Regions from separate parts of the Homo sapiens genome. Here regions 1 and 3 are each linked to region 2. The links come from fine-mapping of genetic effects on gene expression. A gene starts in region 2. Each other region holds a variant in brackets. All regions are shown on one strand. Distances are between the middles of the regions.

Region 1 (8,180 bases), 33 kb after region 2:
ATGGAGTTTTGCCATGTTGGCCAGGCTGGTCTCGAACTCCTGGTCTCAAGTGATCCACCTGCCTTGGCCTCCCCAAGTGCTGGGATTATAGACATGAGCCACTGCACCTGATTAGAGAGTTAATATTCTTTTTTTTTTTTTTTTTTTTGACAGTCTTGCTCTGTTGCCCAGGCTGGAGTGCAATGGTGCCATCTCAGGTCATTGCAACCTCCACCTCCTGGGTTCAAGCTATTCTTGTGCCTCAGCCTCCTGAGTAGCTGGGACTACAGGCGTGTGCTAACACACCTGGCTAATTTTTGTATTTTTAGCAGAGACGGAGTTTTGTCATGTTGGCCAGGCTGGTATCAAACTCCTGACCTCAAGTGATCTGCCTGCTTCAGTCTCCCAAAGTCCTGGGATTACAGGTGTGAACTGCCGTGCCTGGGCTGAGAGCTAATATTCTTATGAGAGACGGAGGCCAGAACCTTTCTCTGCCATCCAGTGAGCTGCTTCTGCTCTTTGCCTCCTAGGGTCCCCAGAAAACCACATGGATAACCTGTGTCAGGCTTGTGTAGACCATATTTGTGACGTCACTCTTGAGTTCACTTCCTCCTCTACTGGGATTTATCAAATGGCTGACCTTGCCCTATCATTCTACCTTTGTCCCTTTAAAGAGTCACTATATTCTTCATTCAGAAGTCAAGTTGGATCAGAGACCATGGGGATCAATCTGAATTTCTCCAGCTATTCTTTTGTTGTTGCCCAGCTGTGGCTTTATCCAGTTGTTCCCTCTGCTTCCTAATTGCTGGCTTGCACTGGTTCTCTGTTAGCTTTAATAACTACTGTAGCACTATAAATATCGGATAAGCTGCAGATTATCCTGAAAGTTTTAATTAGCCCAGTGGCAGTAAGTCTATCTGCTCTGAAGGACAACTCCACGCATAGCCCCATACTCAGAGTTAATGGCCATCTATAGAAGATGATCAGCTAGGAGCCAGGAATGTATAATTTCTCCACTAATCGCTGATTTGGTCAAGGCCTGGGAGAACAAAGCCCTCAGCATGCTTGTCTCCCTCCCTCAAGCCCCCAGCATGTTAGCAAATTAGCCAGCCATGTTAGGAGTCTGTATTTCCATAAATACAGTGTGGGGATAATTTTGCTTGCTGATACATAGGCTGGTTTGAAGGGCTGAAACCAGGAGGGGCATGCCTGGTTTGCCTAGTTAACCTTGAAGAAGCTTTCTTGGGCTCTTCCCCTCCCCCGGCCTTTTTTTTTTTTTTTTTTAAGAGACCAGAGTTTTGCTCTGTTGTCCATGCTGGAGTTCAATGGTGTGATCGTAGCTCATTGCAGCCTTGAGCTCCTGGGCTTAAGCAATCCTCCCGAGTAGCTGGGACTACAGATGTGTACCACTATACCCAGCTAATTAAAAATTATTTTTTTGTAGACATGGGGTCTTACTGTGTTGCCCAGACTGGTCTTGTACCCCTGGCCTAAAAGTGATCCTCCTGCCTTGGCTTCCGAAAGTACTGGGGTTATAGGTGTCAGGGACCATGTATGTCCTAGGCTCTTCTTTCTGCCACAGCCAGAGCTGGTATAAAGTACTGTCTTAGAGATAGCCTTGGGTTCCAATCCCATCTCTGCCCCTCACTGGCTCTGTGACTTTGGGCAGGGTTCTTTTTTTTTTTTTTGAGACAGGGTCTCACTCTGTAACCCAGGCTGGAGTGAAATGGCATGATGTCACCTCACTGCAACCTCTATCTCCCAGGTTCAAGTGATTCTCCTGCCTTAGCCTCCTCAGTAGCTGGGATTACAGGCACCTGCCACCATGCCCGGCTAATTTTTGTATTTTAGTAGAGACAGGGTTTTACCATATTGGTCAGGCTGGTCTTGAATTCCTGACCTTAGGTAATCCGCCTGCCTCAGCCTCTCAAAGTGCTGGGATTACAGGCGTGAGCCACCACGCCCAGCCTGGGCAGGGTTCTTGACCTCACCAACCTCCGTTTGCTCGTATGGGGACTGTGGATAATGGCAGAGCCAGTCTCAGGTGGTTGTGAGAGTAAAATAAGACATTGTACGGAAGGTGTTTAGCCAGTGCACTGCTGGCTGGTGTTACGATTATCAGCTCGTTTTCTCCTTCACAAACATGTTCTACAACAGGCCAGATGATTGTGGACCTGCAGAAGCTCAGGAGTGTCTCTCACCTTACTTTCCTGATGAGCATCTGATGCAGAAATGGGCCCTGCTGGGAACCCACCCACCGGTCTGGCCCCTAGGCTGAGGCTACAGGTGAGAAGATGGATCTTCTGAACCTCAGCCTGACCGCCTCTGGGTTTCCTTTTCTCTCTTCAGTCTTTGTGGGATTAGGGAGGATTGGAATTTTTGTGTCATCTTAGACATTTTAAGTTTGAGAAATGAATTTTGAAGGGGTCTTTGTAAATTGTCACCAGATTGCCATCCTTGCTTCTGATAAGCCTAAATTATTGTAATGTGAATCCCTGTGATGGTGGCAATTTTATAATGCTGGTGTAGCCCTGGGCCACTCACAAAGGCCCCTAGCACTCATCTCCTTGAGCTTCTCTGCACACCTAGTCAGGTGGCAAGGCACACATCATCTCCATCTTGCGGATGAGTAAACTGAGAATTGGAGAGTCTGTGAGTAGCGGGAGGTCTCACGAATTCTGACTCGTAGCCTGATTTCTTTCCCCAGCCCTTGCTTGCAGGAAGGAGAACAGGGAAAAGAAGGGACCTGGTCAGCCCCACTACTGCCCTTCGGCAAGGCTCCTTTCAGCCACCTTCCTCATCAGTGGAGAGGGGAGAGAGTCCTTCTTTTGTTGCTCATGTGTATTTTTTTTGTAGTTAGTGTTGATTTTTTTTCCAGACAGGGTCATTTTTATTTTTTAGAGGCAGGGTCTTGCTCTGTCTCCCAGCCTGGAGTGCAGTGGTTATATCTCACAGTGGTTCTATCTCACTATAACCTTGAACTCCTGGGCTTAATTGATCTTGCCGCCTCAGCCTCCCAGGTAGCTAGGACCACAGGCGTGTGTCACCATGTCCAGCAAATTTTTTTAATTTTTTTGTAGAGACAGTGTCTCACTGTGTTGCCTAGGCTGGTCTGAGATAGGGTCTTGTTCTGTTGTCCAGACTGGAGTACAGTGGTGCCATCATAGCTCACTGTAGCCTCCAGCTCCTGGGCTCAAGCAGTCCATCCTCCTCAGCCTCCTGAGTAGGTGCGACTACAGGTGCATGCTACCCCATCTGGCTAATCTTTAAAATATTTCTGTAGAAATGGGGTCTTGCTATGTTGCCCAGGCTGGTCTTGAACTCCTGGCCTTAAGTGATCTTCCTACCTTGGGCTCCCAAAGTGCTGGGATTACAGATGTGAGCCACTATGCCTTGGCCTTAGATTTTAATCAGAGTAGTGCATGTCCGTAGTTAAAAAAGTCAAATAGTACTAAAAGGCATATAAGAAAGTATAGCACTTCACTGTACAGAGCTCTCCTCAAAGGCAACCATTCTGTTGTGGTGTTTACATCCATCTTTGTAAATAATACACTTAGACTGCTTTTTCTTGACTCATCAGTTTTAAACTTTATCAACTGAGAATTCTTCTGGTAGATGAGGATTTGTCTCTGCTTTCCCCTCCCGCATCCTTCTTATATGG[C/CT]TTTTTTTTTTTTTTTTGAGACAGAGTCTCGCTCTGTCGCTCAGGCTGGAGTGCAGTGGTGTGATCTCGGGTCACTGCAACCTCCGCCTCCCGGGTTCAAGTGATTCTCCTGCCTCAGCCTCCTGAGTATCTGGGATTACAGGCATGTACCACCACGCCCAGCTAATTTTTGTATTTTTAGTAGAGACAGGGTTTCACCATGTTGGCCAGGCTGGTCTTGAACTCCTGATCTCAGGTGATCCACTCACCTCAGCCTCCCAAAGTGCTGGAATTACAGGCGTGAGCCACTGCGCCTGGCTTTTTTTTTTTTTTTTTTTTTTTTTTGAGACAGAGTCTTGCTCTGTCACCTGGCTGAAGGGCGGTGGCGTGATCTCGGCTGACTGCAACCTCTGCCTCCCGGTTTCAAGTGATTCTCCTGCTTCAGCCTCCCGAGTAGCTGGGACTATAGGCACCCGCCACCACGCCCGGCTAATTTTTGTATTTTTTAGTAGAGACAGGGTTTCACCATATTGGCCAGGCTGGTCTCAGACTCCTGACCTCGTGATTCACCCGGCTCTGCCTCCCAAAGTGGTAGGATTACAGGACTGAGCCACCGAGCCCGGCCTCCTATATGGCTTCTGAAAGGAGAGCAGAACCCCACGCAGCATCTGCCAGATGTAAAAGAACTGTTTACTGTGAGACAGCATGAGACTTATGAGAATCAGGAAACCAGCCTGTGATTTCTCACACAGTTGGCACAATGGTAATTTCTGGATGTTGTGTTTCATTAGCAGCCTCTGAGCGGAGGTGGTTTAAATTTGAGCGTGCAGGATTTAGATGTTTTATTTTTATATCTGTCTCCGACACTCCCAGAGCCACCTGGTTTCTTGAGTTGTAACAAGATGTTTTCTGTTGCACAGGCCTTGGGTTCCTCATTAGCCCCAGTTCATGTTCCTCTTGGGGGCCTGGCTCCTTTACGAGGTCTTGTGGATACCCCACCCTCTGCTCTTCGTGGATCTCAAAGCGTGAGCCTGGGGAGCTCAGTGGAGTCTGGACGTCAGCTTGGAGAACTCATGCTGGTAAGTACGTTCTCTTGCGTTCAGTGTCTGTAGTTCCTGTGGGGCCTCCCGTGTGCCATACCAGGAACTATGGCCTAGGGGTGAGAAATAGACAGAATCGGTGGAGTCCTCAGAGTTCGTAATCCAGTTGGGAAAATGTAATTCGCACCTGTATGAATGTGGACTCTGGGCTGTGGAGGATAGACCCATGCTGTAGGGACATCAGTGCTGATTTCCAAGTCTCTGCAGCCAAGGCAGTAGGAGTAGGCAAAGGGAGTCATTGATGTGAGCTGCAGTCGCCAGGTCAGCTTCATGGACATGGTGGCACTTGATCTGGGAGACATTGACATAGAGAGTGGGGAGGAGCATTCTAAAGGTCATTCCAAAGGTCTTCCAAGTGAGTCCTTTGACTGTCCTTCTCTATTTTGAAGCCTTCACAGGGTCTCAAGACCTCTGCTTATACAAAGGGTCTCTTGGGCTCCATATATGAGGACAAGACTGCTCTCAGCCTCTTGGGTTTAGGAGAAGAAACCAATGAGGAGGATGAGGAGGAAAGTGACAACCAGGTAATGATGAAGTCCTCTCCCTGGCCTGGAAACCCTCTGTGCCATATTTTTTCCTTTTGAAAATGTTTTTGCTGTGATAGAAAAAATATGTAACATAAAATTTGCCCTTTTAACCATTTTAAAGTTAAAATTCAGTGGTATTAATTACCTTCACAATGTGTGCACCCAACACCACTATCCATTTCTTTTTTTTTCTGCACTCCCCCGCCGCCACTATTCATTTCTAGAACTTGTTCATCATCCCAAATAGAAACTGTGTACCTATTGAATGATAACTTCCTATTCCCTCTCCCTCCATCCCTGGAAACCTAATCTGCTTACTGTGTCTATGAATTTACCTATTCTAGGTACTTCATATAAGTGGAATTATACAATGTTTGTCCTTTTGTGTCTGGCTTATTTCACTTAGCATAATGTTTCAAGCTTCATCTATGTTGTAGCATGTATTAGAACTTTGGTCCTTTTTAAGGCTGAATAATATTCCATGGTATGGATATGCCACATTTTGTTTATCTACTCATCTGTCGATGAATATATATGGGTTGTTTCCACCTTTGGCTGATCTCTGTGCTACTTTTTAAAAAAGCAAGAAGTTTTTTTGGCCTACAGCTTCATTTCTTGAGCAGTCTATTATGTCTTCTAGATCTGATCCAGAAAGTACAGCCAGCAGAAAGCACCTTGGCCACTTGCTTGTTGCACAGCATAGTTTGCGCTGGATGGAGAGCCGTTTAGTGAGGCTGCCTCAGTGGTGGTCCTGCTCTGAGTCCTCTGAAGCCCTGCCTGGGCCCGCCTGTCAGCTCAGCAGTGCCCCACTTTTCCCTCTGCACACCCCTCACCCTGGGTTGACCAGTTTCTTCAGAGTTACCACTTGTCATCATTTTTGTTTCTAGAGTGTCCACAGCTCAAGTGAGCCTCTTAGGAACCTACACCTGGACATTGGGGCACTGGGGGGTGACTTTGAGTATGAGGTAAGAGCCCTAATCCCTACAGGCACATGTGTCAGCCTGGCATATCCCTCCTGTTTTTATTAAGCCCTGCTACTTTGTTGTAATGCATATTTGGAAAAAGAACCATTTTGTCCCAGTCCTTCCAGATGAGATTTCTGGGGTTTGGGGAAGGACAAGAATAAATGAATGGATTCCTGTCCCTTCCAGACCCTGCCTCTAAACAAACAAACATCAACACTCATTATGTTATTGTAATACCTAAAACCTCCAATGCTTTTTTTTTTTTTTTTTTTTTTTTTTTTAAGAGACAGAGCCTCACTCTTTTGCCCAGCTTGGAGTACAGTGGTGTGAACAGAGCTCACTGCTTTGAATTCCTGGGTTCAAGTGATCCTCTGCCTCAGCCTCCTGAGTAGTTAGGACTACAGGCATACGCACCCATGCCTGTCTACTTTTTACATTTTTTGCAGAGATGAGGTCTCTCTGTTGACCAGACTGGTTTCAAACTCCCGGTCTCAAGCAGTCCTTCCATCTTGGTCTCCCAAAGTGCTGGAATTACAGGTGTGAGCCATTGTGCCCAGCTATGTGTTTTTGTACTTAGAAAGGAGCTTTCCCTACCATGTATCCTTTGTTTAGTGTCCAGTGTATTCATTTAAATATAACATTTCTCTAAATATTCCCTAAGTATTTATACAACCAATGAATCATGAACTCAACAATTAGATTTCCCCAAATATTTAAATATTTGTTGCAGGCTCAATCAGTTAAACTTTTCACAAGTCTAATATATCAAGTTCTTTTAAATACTTTCAATACCTTAACATCAAACAAGTCACTCACACTTTATTAGAAAGATCACAAAACTGGCCTGTAAAACTTTAGAAGTGCTTATATCCTGAATTTAAATTTGTTTTCTCATTATCCCTTATTATTTCTGACTTGTTTCTTGGAAATCACTTTACCTTAAGAGCCAGGATTGGTGTCTCAGGCCACTTGAAGTTTCAGATGTGCTGGCTGATAGCCCCTGATTTGGTACTTGAGACCTGAGTTGTGGGTGACCCAAGTCTAGCCATTGGACAGGGCTTTTTTTTTTTTTTTTGAGACTGGGTGTCACTCTGTTGCCCAGGCTGGAGTACACGTCAGCCTCCCAAGTAGCTGGGACCACAGGCGCCCGCCACCACACCCGGCTATTTTTTGTAGAGATGGGGTTTTGCTATGTTTCCCAGGCTGGTCTTGAACTCCTGGGCTTAAGTGATCCACCTACCTTGGGCTCCCGAAGTGCTGGGATTACAGGCGTGAGCCACTGTGCCCAGCCTAGGACTCTTTTTGTAGTTAGACTTTGCCTGTAACCTCAGAAACTGTTCAGCATTTTGGCTCTGCACAGTCAGATACCTTTTGATTATGACTTTACAATTTCTTGCCAAATGTGACACTTTTTTCTAAGTGTCCCGTTTTTATTATCAAGCTGATATAGGTCTGCTTTGAAACTGTTCCTTCTGAGTGGGGCCTAGTCTGGAAGGATTAAATCTAAAGCCTTCAATCTGTTTAGTTCCCTGAAATGACAACTTTATTTTCTTCTCCACCACCAGTAAGACCTATATTGATCAAAGGAGATGCTCAGGCTTTGTGCCTAGAAGGTTGACCATGTATAGGACTAGGGGTGTCAGAGGACTTATTTGCTTGTGGAGGAAGAAGACAATCTCTATGAGAATGAGCAAGTTGAGGCTGGAGATTCTGCCCTATTCATTTCTGTATGGCCAGGAAGCAACTAGCCTGCTGCCTCTGAAACATAGGAAGTGCTTGGGTATGTTTTGTTCAACAATCGAGAGAGTGAACTTGTGAATGAGTGAATGAGCCACCTCGGGACAGAGAGAGTGTCCAGGCAGGTTGTGTCATATTTTTTTCTTCACTTGGCTTTTCCAGTTTCTGGATAGAGTGGGTACTTGGTCCCTGCTGTCAGCTGGTGGATGGAAGATCCTGATGTGGATTGATC
Region 2 (8,180 bases):
GAACCCATGCTAAGGCACAAGAGTTAAGCATTTGGATGGCAATTAAAATCAACAGGGCTGGGCGTGGTGGCTCATGCCTGTAATCCCAGCACTTTGGAAGGCCGAGGTGGGTGGATCACCTGAGGTCAGGATTTCAAGACCAGCCTGGCCAACATGGTGAAACCCTGTCTCTACTAAAAATACAAAAATTAGCCTGGCATGGTGGTGACAGAGTAAGACTGTATCTCAAAAAGCAAACAAACAAACAAACAAAAAACCAGATTGATTGCAAAGATTGCAAATTCTTAGATATAGGGACCAAGTCTACAAATGGTTTTTTGAATCCCTGTTTTGTGCAGGTTTGTGGTAGATGAGCTGGTGAGCCCAGAATTCCTTCCCAGTCTGGTCCCTTTGGCCCCTCAGTGAGACCTTTATTTATTTATTTATTTATTTATTTTTGAGACAGAGTCTCACTTTGTCACCCAGGCTGGAGTGCGGTGGCGTGATCTTGGCTCACTGCAACCCCTGCCTCTCGGGTTCAAGCGATTCTCCTGCCTCAGCCTCCCAAGTAGCTGGGACTACAGGTGTGTGCCACCACGCCCAGTGAATTTTTGTGTTTGTAGTAGAGACAGGGTTTTGCCATGTTGGCCAGGCTGGTCTTGAGCTCCTCATCTCAGGTGATCCACCTGCCTCACCCTCCCGAAGTGCTGGGATTACAGGTGTGAGCCACCACAGCCTGGCCTACTTTTTTCTTTTTTTGAGACAGAGCTTCGCTCTTGTCAAACAGGGTGGAGTGCAATGGCGAGATCTCGGCTCACTGCAACCTCCACCTCCTGGGTTCAAGCGATTCTCCTGCCTCGGCCTCCCGAGTAGCTGGGATTACAGGTGCCTGCCACCACAACCAGCTAACTTTTGTATTTTTAGTGGAGATGGGGTTTCACCATGTTAGCCAGGCTGGTCTCAAACTCCTGACCTCAGGCGATCTGCCTGCCTCGGCCTCCCAAAATGCTGGGATTACAGGTGTGAGCCACTGTGACCGGCCAAGACTTTTAAAGAAGATGGAGAGGAAAGGGGACGATGATTTGTCATTTACAGTAAGAATAAAGGAAGTATAGGCATAACTGCTGCAGAAGGATTTAAATTTAAACATGATGACGTCAATCTAAATAACAGAGAGGGAAACTCCAAAAGAAAATGATATTTATTTAGAAGTAGCATTGCAATAGGTATACACATGCCATAGAGGCTGGGCAAGTAGGACCTTTTTTTTTTTTTTTTTTTTTTGAGACGGAGTGTCGCTCTTGTTGCCCAGGCTGGAGTGCAATGTCGAGACCTTGGCTTACCACAGACTCCGCCTCCTGGGTTCAAGCGATTCTCCTCTCTCAGCCTCCCGAGTAGCTGGGATTACAGGCATGCACCACCATGCCTGGCTAATTTTGTATTTTTTAGTAGAGATGGGGTTTCTCCATGTTGATCAGGTTGGTCTTTAACTCCTGACCTCAGGTGATCCACCTGCCTTGGCCTCCCAAAGTTCTGGGATTCCAGGCATGAGCCACTGTGCCTGGCTCAAGTAGGAATTTTTATTTTATTTATTTTTTTAGACGGAGTCTTGCTCTGTCACCCAGGCTGGACTGGAGTGCAGTGGCTTGATCTGGGCTCATTGCAACCTCCACCTCCCGGGTTTAAGTGCCTCAGCCTCCTGCCTCAGCCTCCTGAGCAGCTGGGACTACAGGCGTGTGCCACCATGCCCAGCTAATTTTTGTATTTTTAGTAGAGACGGGGTTTCATCATATTGGCCAGGCTGGTCTCGAACTCCTGACCTTAGGTGATCCACCCGCCTTGGCCTCCCAAAGTGCTGGGATTACAGGTGTGAGCCACTGTGCCTGGCAAAGTGCTAGGATTACAGATATGAGCCACCAGGCCCGGTCGATAGTTTTTGTTATCAGGTATTCATGCGTGAGAACCCTCTCTTCATGGTCTTCCCTGGCTCCATTTGTCAGGGTTTTAAAACAAATGACTCTATTTTGATTTTGATAATTTTCACAAGGAATATGCTCTGTATATTCCAACAATCTGAGTTTCTCATCCTGGAATCAGCCTCTGAGTGGCACTGGGACTATCCTGAGTCAGCTACATCTCTAGAACCTATCAGGAGCGGCTCTATGAGCTTGGCCTCATCATTTTCCTCCTCAACTAGCAGCATCTGTATTTGTCTGTTTCTCAGTTTTCCTATTGATGTAATGGCCAGAACTTTCTTTGCCCCTCTTAACTTCTCTAGGAGGTTGGAGACATATGAGAGAAAGGAAGATTTGCCCTCCGTGCAAGCAAAACTAAAACTCTTCGGAATTATATTAGTAGCAACCTTTCTGCCCGACAGGGTGTGTGGAGGAGCTACACATTGTGTCACTTTTTTTCTTCTTCAATAGACTCTTTGAAATAGTTATGACAGACATTACTATCCCCATCTTGCAGACATACAAACTGAACCCTGGGCTTTGGTGAAAAGATGGATAGTAGAAAATAGGTTTAACTCCTGGTCAGGTGCTCACTGGTTTAATAGGAGCACAGGAGAGCCAGTTTTTTTGCGGGGAGAGATGGGGAGTGGACGCGTCTCCATTACCTTACATTCACATTTGTTTTGTTGATTAAAGTAACAATGGGTTGATTATTGATGACCACTGTATTATTCACCTGATGTTAATCATACTCCTAACAAATGATCAATTAGATAATTAGATAATTCACATTAGTATAAATACTCTAAATAGTCCTTCTCTGTCCTGGCAGAAATCCTCACGTCTAAACTCGGGGTCCTCTTTTTTTTTTTTTTTTTTTTTTAGTAGAGAAGGGGTTTCACCATGTTGGTCAGGCTGGTCTCGAACTCCTGACCTCAGGTGACCCACCCGCCTCGGCCTCCCAAATTGCTGGAATTACAGGCGTGAGCCACCGCGCCCAGCCGATGAGGTTCTCTTTCAACCTCTTGCGGATTCCCATTATCTATCTTAAACTACACTCTTTCAACCTCTTGCGGATTCCCATTATCTATCTTAAACTACACTCCCATCGTGCAACGGAAAACGGACAGAGCTCCTGCGTGCACCGAAGGGACTTCGAGCCAATCCATTGTCACAGCTCTCAGCCGGCGACCTATTGGCTCCTGCTGGAGGCGGGACTCCCGGTTGCTAGGCGGTACCTTTTCCGGAAGTGTTTGTTGCGCGCTGCAGGGCAACACCCCGGCGTCCCTGGAAGCTGGGGGAGCGGGTGGGTGTTGGGTGGCGTTGGGGGAGCTGCGCCTCGCCCAGAGCCTCGCCCGGAGCCTCGCCCGGAGCCTTCCGGGGTGGGGGATAGTTGAGGACCTCATCGAGGGAGGGGTTGGGCGGCGGGGAAGGGAGCGAGCGTGGCGGGGGACCCGAGGCACGCTCTCGAGCCAACGAGCGTGATGCGCTCGAGTGTGGGCGGGGACTGAGGGAAGAAGTGAAAATCGGACTGCCAGGCGACAGTTCCTCCGTTTGAAATCTCGCCGGCTCCTGAGCGGGCCACCGGGCCCGGGCTGGGGGTCTGGCGGGTGAGTGAGCAGCGGGTCGGGACGCGGGAGAGGGGCACTGGGCACGGGGCCCTGGTTTGCTTGCTCTGTTCATCGTTGGCGAGTGAGGCCAGGCCTTCCGAAGCTTGCTGGGATACTTCTGTGGCAGGCTTCCCCCCGGGTCCAAATCCGGGGCTAGCCCAATCTTATGCCATCTTTGGCCAGCTGGGAAAGTTGGAAAGCTTTTTTGTTTTTTCCTTTTCTTGCATTGGATTTAAAAATGTCCCTCTACCTCTGGCACCGCTCTCCTCACTTGGCTTCAGCGACTCCCTGTCCGTTCTCCTAACTCAGTCCTTGGCAGTAGAAAGCTCCCTTCTACTCGGCGCACTCCATCTCTTGCGTTATCAGCTTTTCAGCGTTGACTCGCCAAACTACTCCAGCCAGACCTCTTTCCTGAGCTCAGACCTGCTTACTGTCATCGTCAGCCTTCCCCGGTCCCTCCGATCTGTTTCTCCTCTTGTATTTTTTTATCTCAATGAAGGGCTTCACCATTCACTCAGCCAAGTCTGTCCCTTTAATTTATTCATCTAATAAATACAGCAAACATTTGTCGGACATGCCCTGTCTTCTAGGCAGTGTAGTAGGTGGGGCTGCCTATTGGACGAGGCATAGAAATGAACACATCTAGAAATGATAGTCACAGTGTTCTGGCTTTAGTGCTCTGATTTCCCTCCTCTCTCCCGAAGTTCAAGTCCTGTATTCTGCCTCTTAATTCCCCTAGAATCTGGCGCTTCCTTTCCATCCTCACAGACACTGACTTAGTTCATAATTTCTTGCTTGTGCTTTCAGGATAACTTCCTAAGTGGTCTCTCTGCCTCAGTTCTTGTCCTCCTGTAATTAGTTCTTATGCAGCTGTCAGAATCATTTATTTATTTTAGAGACAGGGTCTTGGTATGTTGCCCAGGCTGGAGTGCAGTTGGTATTCACCGGTGTGACCCTAGTACACTGCAGCCTCGAACTCTTGCCCTCAAGCCATCCTCCCACCTCAGTCTCCTTAGTAGACGGGACTACAGGCATGCACCACTATTCTTGGCTAGAATCGTCTATCTGACCTACAGATCTGGTCATGCCAGTCTCCTTTGTGAAATCCTGTGATGGCCCCTCATCATTTACAGGATAGAGCCTCTGTTCTTCCAGGCCCTTTATAATATGCTCTTGCCTTTCATTCTAGAGCTCTGTCTTGCCACTCCTCCCACTGTCCCTTGCACTCTGGTCATGTCAGAATGGTTAAGAGTTTGGGCTTTGGAGTCAGACATGGATACTTACATATTCTGCTCTACCGTTTATTAGCTGTGACACCTTGGGCAAGTTTGTTTGTTTGTTTGTTTGTTTTGAAATAGAGTCTTGCTCTGTCGCCCAGGCTGGAGTGCAGTGGTGCGATCTTGGCTCACTGCAGTCTCAGTCTCCTGGGTTCAAGCGATTCTCCTGCCTCAGCTTCCCGAGTAGCTGGGACTACAGGTGGGCACCACAACTCCTGGCTAATTTTTTGTATTTTGGTAGAGACGGGGTTTCACCATGTTGGCCAGGCTGGTCAGGATCTCCTGACCTCATTATCCGCCCACCTCCGCCTCCCAAAGTGCTGGGATTACAGGCGTGAGCCACTGCGCCTGGCCTTTTTTTTTTTTTTTTTTTTTTTAACTTTGCTAAGCCTCAGTTTCCTTATTTGAAAAGTGAAGATAATTCTATTTTGCTGAGTGGATGAAGTGAGATGATGTATATAGAGCACTCAGTACAGTTCCTGTAACATAGGAAGTGTTCAGTGGCTATAAGCTTTTGTTGTCATAATTAATTCTTTGCACCCACCTTATGATTTTCTTCTTTTTTGCCTTTGTGCATGTTGTTCCTCTGCCGTGAATTCCCTTACTCCGCTTATCCTGGGGATCACCTGCTTATCCTTCAAGAACTATCTCAATTGTCCTCTGTGAGGCTTTCCCTGATCTTCCTAAGATTATTTGCCCTTACCTTTGTGTTCTGTTATATATTATGTTACTTCCTTTAATTCATGTAACACATTTTGTAGTCATGTGTTTACGTGTTTGGCTTTCCAGGTAGGCTGAGCTCAAGTTCAGGGCCATGTGTAATCAGGTTTGTAGCCCTAACACGTCGCACAATGTCTGGCCCATGGTGGGTGTTCAGTAAGTGATTACTTGGCGCGGTGACTCACGCCTGTAATCTCAGCACTTTGGGAGGCCAAGGCGGGCGGATCACCTGAGGTCAGGAGTTCGAGACTTGGCCAACATGGTGAAACCCCATCTCTACTAAAAATACAAAAATTAGCCGGGCGTGGTGGCAGGCGCCTGTAATCCTAGCTACTCGTGAGGCTGAGGCAGGAGCATCATTTGAACCTGGGAGGCAGAGGCTGCAGTGAGCAGAGATCGTGCCATTGCACCCCAGCCTGGGTGACAAGAATGATACTCTGTCTCAAAAAAAAAGCAAAGAAAAAGTGATTACTTAATGTCTGAATGGCCTTAACTTATATTGCCTGGTGCTGGATATGTCCTTTGGAGCAAGGTAGAATAAACCCTTTTAAATAGGTGAATAGCAGTCATAATAATGTAATGTCTAACATTTATTGAGACCTTAGTATATTTTAAGCACTTTACATGTATTGAATCATATAAGCCTCACAACACATTGTGATGGATATTGTTAGTACTCTCATTTTATAGATGAGAAAACTGAGGCTGTCCAGCTAGTAAGAGGCAGAGCTGGGATTGAAAGCCAAGAATGTTCCAAAGCTTTTGCTCATTACCACTGCGTAATCAACTCTGACATCTTCCACCTTCTCCCCTTTACCTTCTCCAGTCAATCTTTTCTGTGGTCAACCTTCTTTGTAATTGTTGGAGCAGGGTGGAAGAAATAAATATACAGAGAACCCTCATTATGTCTGTGAGTGTATATTCTCTGTTAGTGTGCAGATGTGCAAAACTCTAGCTATGCTGACAAAGTACAGGGCAAGGTAGCCACAATATTGAAGGACTGGGAAACGATATGTACTGAATGGAAGAGAACTGGGAATACTTAGCCTACCTTAGCTAGAGAATCCTAGGGTGTCCCCAGATGAGCAGAAGGCAGACTTGAGATACCAGGGAACATTTTTTTAGAACCTGATTATTGGCTTACTATTAGACCTTCTAATAGTTAAGAATTATCTAACTATGGAATTGAAAATAGAATCTGTAATACTAGCTAAATTTGTGTAACTTTTCTGTATACAGGGACTGTGCTAGGCACTTTATAAGTGTTGTTTCATTTTACTTTCAGGCTTTTTGATTTTTGTTAAGATTGTTTTAATTATACACATGCAGTTATTGAGGCTGAGAGAGGTGAAGCACCTTGCCTAAGGTCATACAGCTGCTAAGTGAGAGAGCTGGGATTTGAATCCAGGTCTTCTGTCTCCAAAGCTGGTACTTTGACCACTATGCCGCCTGTCACTGGAAGCACAGAGAGGAAAATTTTGGCATGGGAAGGAAGGTGGACCAAAACTACTGCGGGTCTTCCTAGCTTCTGAGATTGCTGGTGTATTTTTTTTTTTTTTCAGATAGGGTCTCACTCTGTTGCCCAGGCTGGAGTATGGTGGTACAATCATAGCTCACTGCAGCCTCGAACTCCTGGTCTCAAGTGATCCTCCCACCTCTGCCTCCCCACTTTACACTCTTTATGTAACTCTGTCTTCCTTTCCATCTGATCACATAGCTCCTGCCTCAGCCTTCCGAGTAGCTGGGACCACAGGTGCACGCCACCATGCCTGGCTAATATATATATATATATATATATTTGTGGAGACAGGGTCTTACTATATTGCTCAGGCTGGTCTTGAGCTTCTAGGCTCAAGTGATCCTAGGCCTTGGTCCCCCATAGTATTGGGATTACCGGTGTGAGCCACAACACCCGGCCTATTCCTTGGTTTTATATTAGCAGTTACAGCAGTAACTGAGCTCCGACAGCTTACATAGGCTTATTTTAGGCTTTGTTGGAAAATTCCAGAGGAGGAGACATGGCCCTCAGAAGTTTGTGGTTTAACAGGAGAGGTAAGAAGACACATTTTCATAAAAAAAGTAATATTGGCCAGGCACGGTGGCTCACGCCTGTAATCCCAGCACTTTGGGAGGCCGAGGCGGGTGGATCACCTGAGGATAGGAGGTCGAGACCAGCCTGACCAACATGGAGAAACTGCATCTCCACTAAAAAAATACAGAATTAGCCAGGCGTGGTGGCACATACCTGTAATCCCAGCTACTCAGGAGGCTGAGGCAGGAGAATCGCTTGAACCCAGGAGGCGGAGGTTGCAGTGAGCCGAGATCGCACCATTGCACTCCAGCCTGGGCAACAAGAGCGAAACTCCTCTGTCTCAAAAAGAAAGAAAGAAAAAATAATAATATTGAGAGAAATCTGTCTGGGAACACATGAAAATTATGAGCTCAGTGCTAAGGTGGTTCTGGGTTGACAGGAGAGGATAAAATTGGCTGGGAAGGCTTCCTGGAGGAAACGTGTGAGCCACTCCTTTTTTGCCTGATTCTGAGATTGGTAGGAGATGCATGAGTGCAGTTGGGTGACCCCTCCTAACTCTGGCTCACAGAAGGTCTCAGGCTAGGCAGCAAGTAGATCTCACTGGATT
Region 3 (8,180 bases), 61 kb after region 2:
CGAAAGGTCTTTATGGTAATTCAGAGATGACAGTAGCCTGTCCTGTCTTCCTCTCTCTATAGTCTCAAGGTGCTGCAATGGGATTCGTAAGCCCTTGTTTTCCTCTACTGTTCTAATCCGGTCCTGCCCGCTGCTTTCCATCTGCAGCGGGGCTCGAGCTGGAGGGAGAAGGGATTCTGAGTCCACAGCAGGGAGGACCAGCTCCCCTGTTTGACTCTTGCCCAGCCCTCTTTGTTTTGGATCATGCCCACACTTTCCGCTTAGGTTGACTGAGCCACCATGCCAGGCCTGCAACAGCCTGAGTGCTGTGCGAGGAGGGTGTGTGGTGAGGCCACTTTCCACCGTAAGATTGAGGGACCTGGACGTGGAGACACATTCTGGCCTTTAGGAAAGTCACTCTGGGAGACAAAATGCTTTATCCTGCTCATGGTTTCCTCATGCTTTATCCTGCTCATGCTTTATCCTGCTCAGAATGTTCTCAGGATTCCTCTTTGGGCATTTCGTTGAAGAACCAGAAAACAAGCAAAATAACAGTCCTTATTACTTTATACACATCTTTTTAATGGATACCATTATTCCTGATCTCACCACCCTCCTATGTATCCAGGTCAGCTCTGAATTCCTTTTATTCATTTCTAAACATTTAATTAACTCTAAGCAGACGAAAACGTGCCCCCATGGGTAGACGGGGAACATGGCACTCATGTGCATGCTTGCTACATTTTTTGGCTTAGGGGAGCATCTCCTCCTGGCCCCCTTGGTGGTGTGATAGGGGAGCTTCCTATTCCTGGGCCTTCCTGGACTGTTGTAGTTCTCAGAGCTGGGATACCTGCTGCTGCTTCTTTCATGGGCCCATATACATTGGCCACTACTCAGTTTGGGAGGCAGAAAGCAATCTCTGGGGACTGTTCACAAATTGCTGGCATGAGCCTTAAGTAGCAGGCAGAGCTCTAGCGGGGAGGTGGTAACGGGGCTGTGAGCCATTCTAGGAAGGAATCCATTAGGGACAGAGCTTCACTCTCTCCCTGCTGCTGCCAGCTCTTGAGCCGCAGCTTCAGATTTTGATCTTGGGCCATAACCTCGTAAGTCTGCTGAGAGCCTGCTATGGGCTACCCTTCTCCCTAGGCTCTTGGGGCCTTAAACAGCCACAATGGGGCTTGTCCTATGGAACAAGCATTGACTGTATCTCTTGGCCTGCCCTTGGGTGACCTCTTTGACTCCTGATTGTGGGCCCTCCATTAGGATTCCATCTGTGATGTTCCGTATCCATTCTAACCTGGATGCAGAGGTGGGTGGACATTAACCCTGTGATGATATGCCATTCCCCACCCATGGTAGGCGATCCACAGAGCCTGTGGCTCCCCCAGAGCAGCTCTCAGAGGCTGCACTAAAGGCCATGGAAGAGGCAGTGGCCCAAGTACTCGAGCAAGACCAGAGGCACCTGCTGGAATCCAAGCAAGAGAAGATGCAGCAACTGCGGGAGAAGCTGTGCCAAGAGGAGGAAGAGGAGATCCTCCGGCTTCACCAGCAGAAAGAGCAATCTCTCAGGTCCTGCCCTTCCCCTTAGGCATGCTTCCTGGGGCCTTTCAGGGATGTGAGGAGCCAGGGACACCCTCTTAGCCTGGGGACCACTGGGATGCCCATGGTTCTACTAAGACCAACTAAAGTTGGGAAACTTGACCCAACAATTTCTGCTTATATCTCATTGGTTACACCTAGTTGCAGAGAACACTCGGAAATGTAGTCCTTTAGCTGACCTCTTTACCCCGTAGAATAAAAGCAGGGTTCTGTTGGTAAGGAAGAAAGGGAGAATGGATATTGAGCTGTTAATGAGCCATCTGTCACAGTCCCAGGTTGGGAAAGGTACTACAAAAAGGTGTTAACATATTTCATTTACTTGGCAATTTAACTAAAGGCTAAGTCTTGTCCTCTTGTACAGAACATCCAAGAGTGGTAGAAAATTATTATTTTTAGATGATACCTAGCAAAGTATATATAAAACATTTATGCTTAATTTAGAGAATATAAAACAGAAAACCAACATACAAGTACTGGGAAGGTTGGAGCAATCTCTCATGAGTCCAGCGCAGGAAGCACTGACATAGGGTCTGTCCTTATATCACATCCTTGTGGGTCCTCCACCAGGGAGCATCCCAAAGAACAGACACCTCCAACCCCCTAGCATCCTCCAACCCCCTAGCATCCTCCTCTTCCAGCCAACTGAGAATTGGGGCAGGGGCCCACCCAAGCAGGATGTGACTCACCTTAAGGTGCAGCACCTTGGAGGAAATCCTGGCGCTGTGTCCCTGCCAGCCCACCAGTCTCCTCCCCTCTTGCTGGCCACCCTGAGCTTGGCTGACTGTGCTTTCCATCTCTCTCCCGAGGCCCCTGACTCCAGAGGCCCTCTTAGGTTGTGGGGAAGACTGGCATGCTAGAAGTGTCTTGATTCATGGCCTGGAACATAGCAGTTGCTGAACAAATGGTAGCAATTACTTTTCAATGGAAATCAATGCATATTCAGGCATTCTTGACTAAGTGATTTCTCTGTGGACACTGCCTTCAAGGCCTGGCTTTCTTCAAACTAGTTCATCACCAGAACCTGTTTCTGTTTATGCCCAAGCCTTTCTGAGGAATGGGCTCTCCTTCCGTCTGCTGGGAACTTCCATGTGGTAGAAATTTCTGGAAGCCACAGCTGATCTTGTAACAAATATTTCTGGAATGAGAAGGCAGGCAGGCTGGCCCTTAGCTTCTTTCACTGTAAAATGAAGGGATTGGACTTAAAACTTCTAAAGTCCCTGCCAGCTCTAACACTGTGTTGCTGTGTGTAAAATTTAGCCATAGGACAAAGAGAAAAGGTTTCTGGGGAATCTAGAAGGAAGGATTTTTACTTAATTCAAATTTTCTCTCTTTTTTTTTTTTTTGAGACAGAGTCTTGCTCTGTCGCCCAGGCTGGAGTACAGTGGCTTACTCGGCTCACTGCAAGCTCCGCCTCCCAGGTTCACGCCATTCTCCTGCCTCAGCCTCCCAAGTAGCTGGGACTACAGGCGCCTGCCACCATGCCTGGCTAATTTTTTTTTTTTTATTTTTAGTAGAGACGGGGTTTCACTGGGTTAGCCAGGATGGTCTCGATCTCCTGACCTGATGATCCGCCTGCCTCGGCCTCCCAAAGTGCTGGGATTACAGGCGTGAGCCACTGTGCCCGGCCAAATTTTCTCTCTTAATGGAAAAAAGTAATGATGTTAGTATCTTGAAATAGGAAAGAATCCTAAGTCTTTTTTTGGCTTTAGGATTTGCTACAGAAGCTTTTCAAAGGAATTGTCTTCCGAATCACGTTTTTCCTAGGTTTGAATTCCCTGAGCGCACAGCACACATCCCCTGGTCGTGTGGGGCTGTGTGAGGAGTTACCCAAAAAGGATGTGGTTTGTGTAAGCAGGGGGATGTCTGCTTAGGATGAAATGGCCACTGTTGTTGGTGTGTAAATAAGATAACCTTTCATAGATATCACGGCTTGCTTATAGTTTGGGGCTGGATGATGCTGTTCAAATTCAATTAATTTATTAAGCACCTACTTTATGTCAGCTACTATGTGTGGTACCTGGGATATAACAGATTTTAAGACAAGATTCTTTCTCTTGAGAAGCTCCCAGACTTGCAAGGAAAACAGAGATACAGAAGATGAATTATGATGCCATGTGACGCATGGTGCAGAGTAGCATGGGATAAGAAAGGTCCACATGTAAAGTGATGGGAACAGAAAGATGAATTGATGAGCTTGTAGGGAGTTGGAAAGACTTCCCAGAGAGGGAGCTGAGTGTTGAGGAATGAATATGGGTTTGCCAGATAGAAAAGGGAATTCTTGGCAGAGAACCTAGGAAGGAAGAGTGTGGTAGAATGGAGGGATGGTGACTCAGCTGATGTGGCTAGAACAGAGTCTGTCGGAGTGAAAGAATGTGGAATCTGGTTGGGTGGCTATAGCTATCCTTGAGTGAGTGCCATGCTGAGGTGAAGCTGTTGACAGAGGGGAGCCTTTGGAAGAAGTGCTGTACTACCAAAACCCAGAAGCCAGTAGTTTGCTTTTTTTTTTTTTTTTTTTTTGGAGATAGAGTCTTGCTCTGTTGCCCAGGTTGGAGTGCTGTGGTGTGATCTCAGCTCACTGCAACCTCTGCCTCCCAGGTTCCAGCAATTCTCCTGTCTCAGCCTCCCAAGTAGCTGGGATTACAGGTGTGCGCCACCATGCCCGGCTAATTTTTGTATTTTTAGTAGAGACGGGGTTTCGCCATTATGGCCAGGCTGGTCTCGAACTCCTGACCTCAAGTGATCCACCTACCTCGGCCTCCCAAAGTGCTGGGATTACGGGTGTGAGCCACCACGCCCGGCCATTAGTTTGCTTCTTGAAGCAAAGGGGAGTTCATGGTCCCTTCGTAATCCTGGGAGGTATTAGGGAGGCAGCAGTGGACCTAGAGGCTAAGGTTAGACTCATCTTTAAGATTTAGGAAGCTTTGACTGGGCGCAGTGGCTCACACCTGTAATCTCAGTGCTTTGGGAGGCTGAGGCTGAAGGATCACTTGAGCCTAGGAGTTCAAGACCAGCCTGGGCAACATAGCGAGACTCCATCTCAACAATTAGCTGGGTTTGATGGTGCATGCCTGTGGTCCCAACTACATGGGATGCTGAGGCGAGAGGATTGCTTAAGCCCAGGAGTTTAAGGCTGCAGTAAGCCATGATCACACCACTGCATTCCAGCCTGGACAACAGAGCAAGAACCTGTCTCCAAAAAGAAAAAAAAAAAAAAAGATTTAGGAAGTTTCTTAGGCAGGCAACAGGGCTATTGGAGGCTGAGAGCCATAGCTTATGAATAGAAGAAAGACCTTTGTGGTTTCTCTGACAACCTAGCCTTTCCTTTCCAT[C/G]TCAGTTCCTTGAGGGAGCGGCTGCAGAAAGCCATTGAGGAGGAGGAGGCCCGGATGAGAGAGGAGGAAAGCCAGAGGCTATCCTGGCTCCGAGCTCAGGTCCAGTCCAGCACACAAGCAGATGAGGACCAAATCAGGTAAGTGTGTGCTTACCTGTGAGCTGCCCAGCCCTGCGGAGGCGACCCCAGGGTGCACAGGCCCGTTACCATTCCACTGTGTCCACCCAGGGCTGAGCAAGAGGCTTCCCTGCAGAAACTGAGAGAAGAGTTGGAGTCTCAACAGAAGGCTGAGAGGGCCAGCTTGGAACAGAAAAATAGGCAAATGCTGGAGCAGCTCAAGGAAGAGATAGAGGCTTCGGAGAAGAGCGAGCAGGCTGCCCTGAATGCTGCAAAGGAGAAGGCTCTGCAGCAGCTGAGGGAGCAGCTGGAAGGGGAGAGGAAAGAAGTGAGCTAGTCAAGTGGGGACCTCACCCTCTGACCTGTGTCTGGGCTGCCTGGGGAGGGACTGAGTGCACAAGGAGAAGAAGGGCAAGTCTCGGGTGGGCGTGCAGGCTGGGGAGCCAGGTGGAGAGTAGGTCTCACACACACAGGCATGGGAGACAGCGAGATGACCACCTGGGCCCATTACTCCATATGGACCGAATCGGCTCATGACAGGGCAGAGGATGCAGCAGGCATCACAAGGCTCCTCCAGGGTCAGGCTGGATGGCAGTGGCGGCTGGAGGTTGTCAAGCAGAGAACCCTCAGAGGCTTGAGGGAGAGCGTCCTGTGGATTTGAGAAAGTTCGTGACTGAAAGAGATTTAGCCAGACCAGAGGTTTTGAGACAAAGGCGCTCTGTCCCTCACTGTCTCTGAGGGACAGCTGCAAGGGCCTCACTCCCCACTTTTCTCTCCTTTCTTAGGATGAGAGGCTAGCAATATAGCAAGGATTTTCTCTTTGTCCATACTCCCTCTTCTACTCCAGTCAGATGGTGGGCTTCTGAAGGTTTTAGCACAGTCTCTCTGAGCACTTGTAGTACAGTGCACTTCCCTACTCCTGCTGTAGTGTTTTCCTTGTCTAATAGCTGCAGCTTTGCACCTCACCAAAATAAAAAGAAAATTCTACATGGCCCGACTTAATGACAGCATCCAACCTGGCCCCCCTGGCTTGGATCTTATTTACCAGCATGAGCACCATCTGTGGATCTGTGGCCTAGTCTAAAGGCAGGGGGTGGGAGCAGAGAGCCGAAACTTACTGAAATGCCCCTCTCCTCTGACCTTCATGTTCCTGTTCATTTGCCAGTTGTAGACTTCAGGGGCTGAGTTATTTCAGAGGAACAAAGATGTGCTGTGCTTCCCCATGCTTCCCTTGACCCTGATCTCGAGGGCTTGGGGGTCGGTAGTCTTCCTGGCTCCGCCTCCCACCATGATCAGTACCTGGCCAGCTTCACTCACAGTCCCTTTGCTCCTCCCCAGGCTGTGGCAACGCTGGAGAAGGAGCACAGTGCTGAGCTGGAGCGGCTCTGCTCCTCATTGGAGGCCAAGCACCGGGAGGTAAGATGCAGCATCCTGGGCCCCCTTCATGGCTGATTAGCAGAATTCAGCCCCATCCCTGGCTACTAGGCAGCGAGCCTCTCTCTCCAGCCCTGGGGGATGGATGCCAGGTCCTCAGAACACATCCCCACACAGCAGCTGTACAGTCTGTCTGAGGGTCACACTCCCCTGTGTGTGCGGGGGCCTCCTCAGGTGGTCTCCAGCCTCCAGAAGAAGATACAGGAAGCTCAACAGAAAGAGGAGGCCCAGCTGCAGAAGTGCCTTGGGCAAGTGGAGCACAGAGTTCACCAGAAGTCTTATCACGTGGCTGGGTATGAGCACGAGGTGAGTGCTGCTCTGTCTTCCACAGTCGTGTGCGCCTGTTGTGGACTCTCTTACAGTCAGCTGAGCCGGCCTAGCCTCAGCGGCCTCCAGTTTGCTTTGGATGGCTCAGCTGGGGTTAGCATTTCTAGTTCCCTTTTTATGCCTTAGTTCCCTTGAAGCCAGGTACTCCTCCAATCTGATGCCCCTGTATGCATGTGGGGAGGGGGTGTTGGGGTATGGCTGTGTGCTGACCATGGTGTCATGGCTGTGTGATGTGCATGTGTTGTGTGTGTTGGGGGAGATTGGGGAAATGTGTGTAAGACCTTCAGGTGCAGCAGGCCCTGAGTGCTGGTCCGCCTCGGTTCTTCATGCCACATCCCTGCCATCTCCCCTGCAGCTCAGCAGTCTCCTGCGAGAGAAGCGCCAGGAAGTGGAAGGGGAGCATGAGAGGAGGTTGGACAAGATGAAGGAGGAGCACCAGCAAGTGATGGCTAAGGCCAGAGAGCAGTATGAAGCTGAGGTAGCTCAGCCACATCCCCTGCGCGCATGCACACACATGCACACACACATGCACGCACATGCACACACACATGCACACACACATGCACGCACATGCACACACACCCCGGGGTCCTTCCCACCTGGCTGTGGGGCAGAGGAAGGGGATAAACTGTGGTCAGGGATTGTGGGAGGTTTTCCTTCCTGGTACCCTGCCACGATGATGTTTTTTGCCTTTTTTATTAAAACATGAGAAAAACCTCCACCTAATGGGGGGCAATTCCTCTTTTATCAGGCAGGCTGTACTTTCTTCTGATAGTAAAAAGAACCCCCATACATTGAGCTTGTACTGTGTGCCAAGAACTGTTCTGAGCTCTTTATCTATTTTAACTCATTTAGTCCTCACACCAGCCTTAGGAAGGATCTACTATCATTGTCTCCATTTTAAAGATGAGGGCACTGAGACTTGGAGAGTTTAAGTAGCTTCCCAAGATCACACCCAGCCAATAAGTAGAAGAGCTAGGATTCAAGCCCAGGCCATCTGACTCCAAAGCCTTCAGTTTCCTCACTGCAATGCTGTGTCACCAGGGTTCCTCAACATCTTGGGACACCAAGAAATAGACTGGCAAGAGCCAAGTAATACTGATATTCTCCCCATTTTAAGCCTTTGGTCTTAAGGTAGGAAAGTTCAGCGACTTGAGTTTACCCAAGCTGGCCTGCCTTGCTCACATTGAGGGTGAACAATGGGTGGGTAGAGGGTGGCTGACTATAGCCCACAGCTGGGACCCTGCAGGGTGTTAAGACTACTGCTCCAGTAACTGGAACCAGTATCCCAGACTCTTTCTAGGATCTTTCCCAGGGCAGAAATAGCAGTCCCATGATGAAATTTGCCATATCCCTTCCCCCAACCAATTATGACCTTGCTGAAGAATAGTGATAA

What was found.
Region 1: its variant is fine-mapped to the expression of CEP164 in whole blood (INTERVAL, PIP above 0.99).
Region 3: its variant is fine-mapped to the expression of CEP164 in whole blood (TOPMed, PIP above 0.99). The same link has a PIP of 0.9 or more in thyroid.

What each region holds. Positions count from the first base shown.
Region 1 is chr11:117,357,296-117,365,475 of GRCh38, forward strand. It overlaps CEP164 (centrosomal protein 164), which reads left to right. Exons shown (of 33, transcript NM_014956.5): 6 at 4,540-4,698; 7 at 5,109-5,243; 8 at 6,134-6,211. Among named protein-coding and RNA genes, the nearest start is that of CEP164, 34 kb to the left of the region's middle. The variant C/CT (reference allele first, on the strand shown) is at 3,641.
Region 2 is chr11:117,324,665-117,332,844 of GRCh38, forward strand. CEP164 (centrosomal protein 164) reads left to right here and starts at 3,190. Exons shown (of 33, transcript NM_014956.5): 1 at 3,190-3,240. RefSeq lists a silencer at 3,258-3,507.
Region 3 is chr11:117,385,865-117,394,044 of GRCh38, forward strand. It overlaps CEP164 (centrosomal protein 164), which reads left to right. Exons shown (of 33, transcript NM_014956.5): 15 at 1,339-1,548; 16 at 4,913-5,044; 17 at 5,135-5,351; 18 at 6,362-6,439; 19 at 6,632-6,763; 20 at 7,140-7,262. Among named protein-coding and RNA genes, the nearest start is that of CEP164, 62 kb to the left of the region's middle. The variant C/G (reference allele first, on the strand shown) is at 4,908.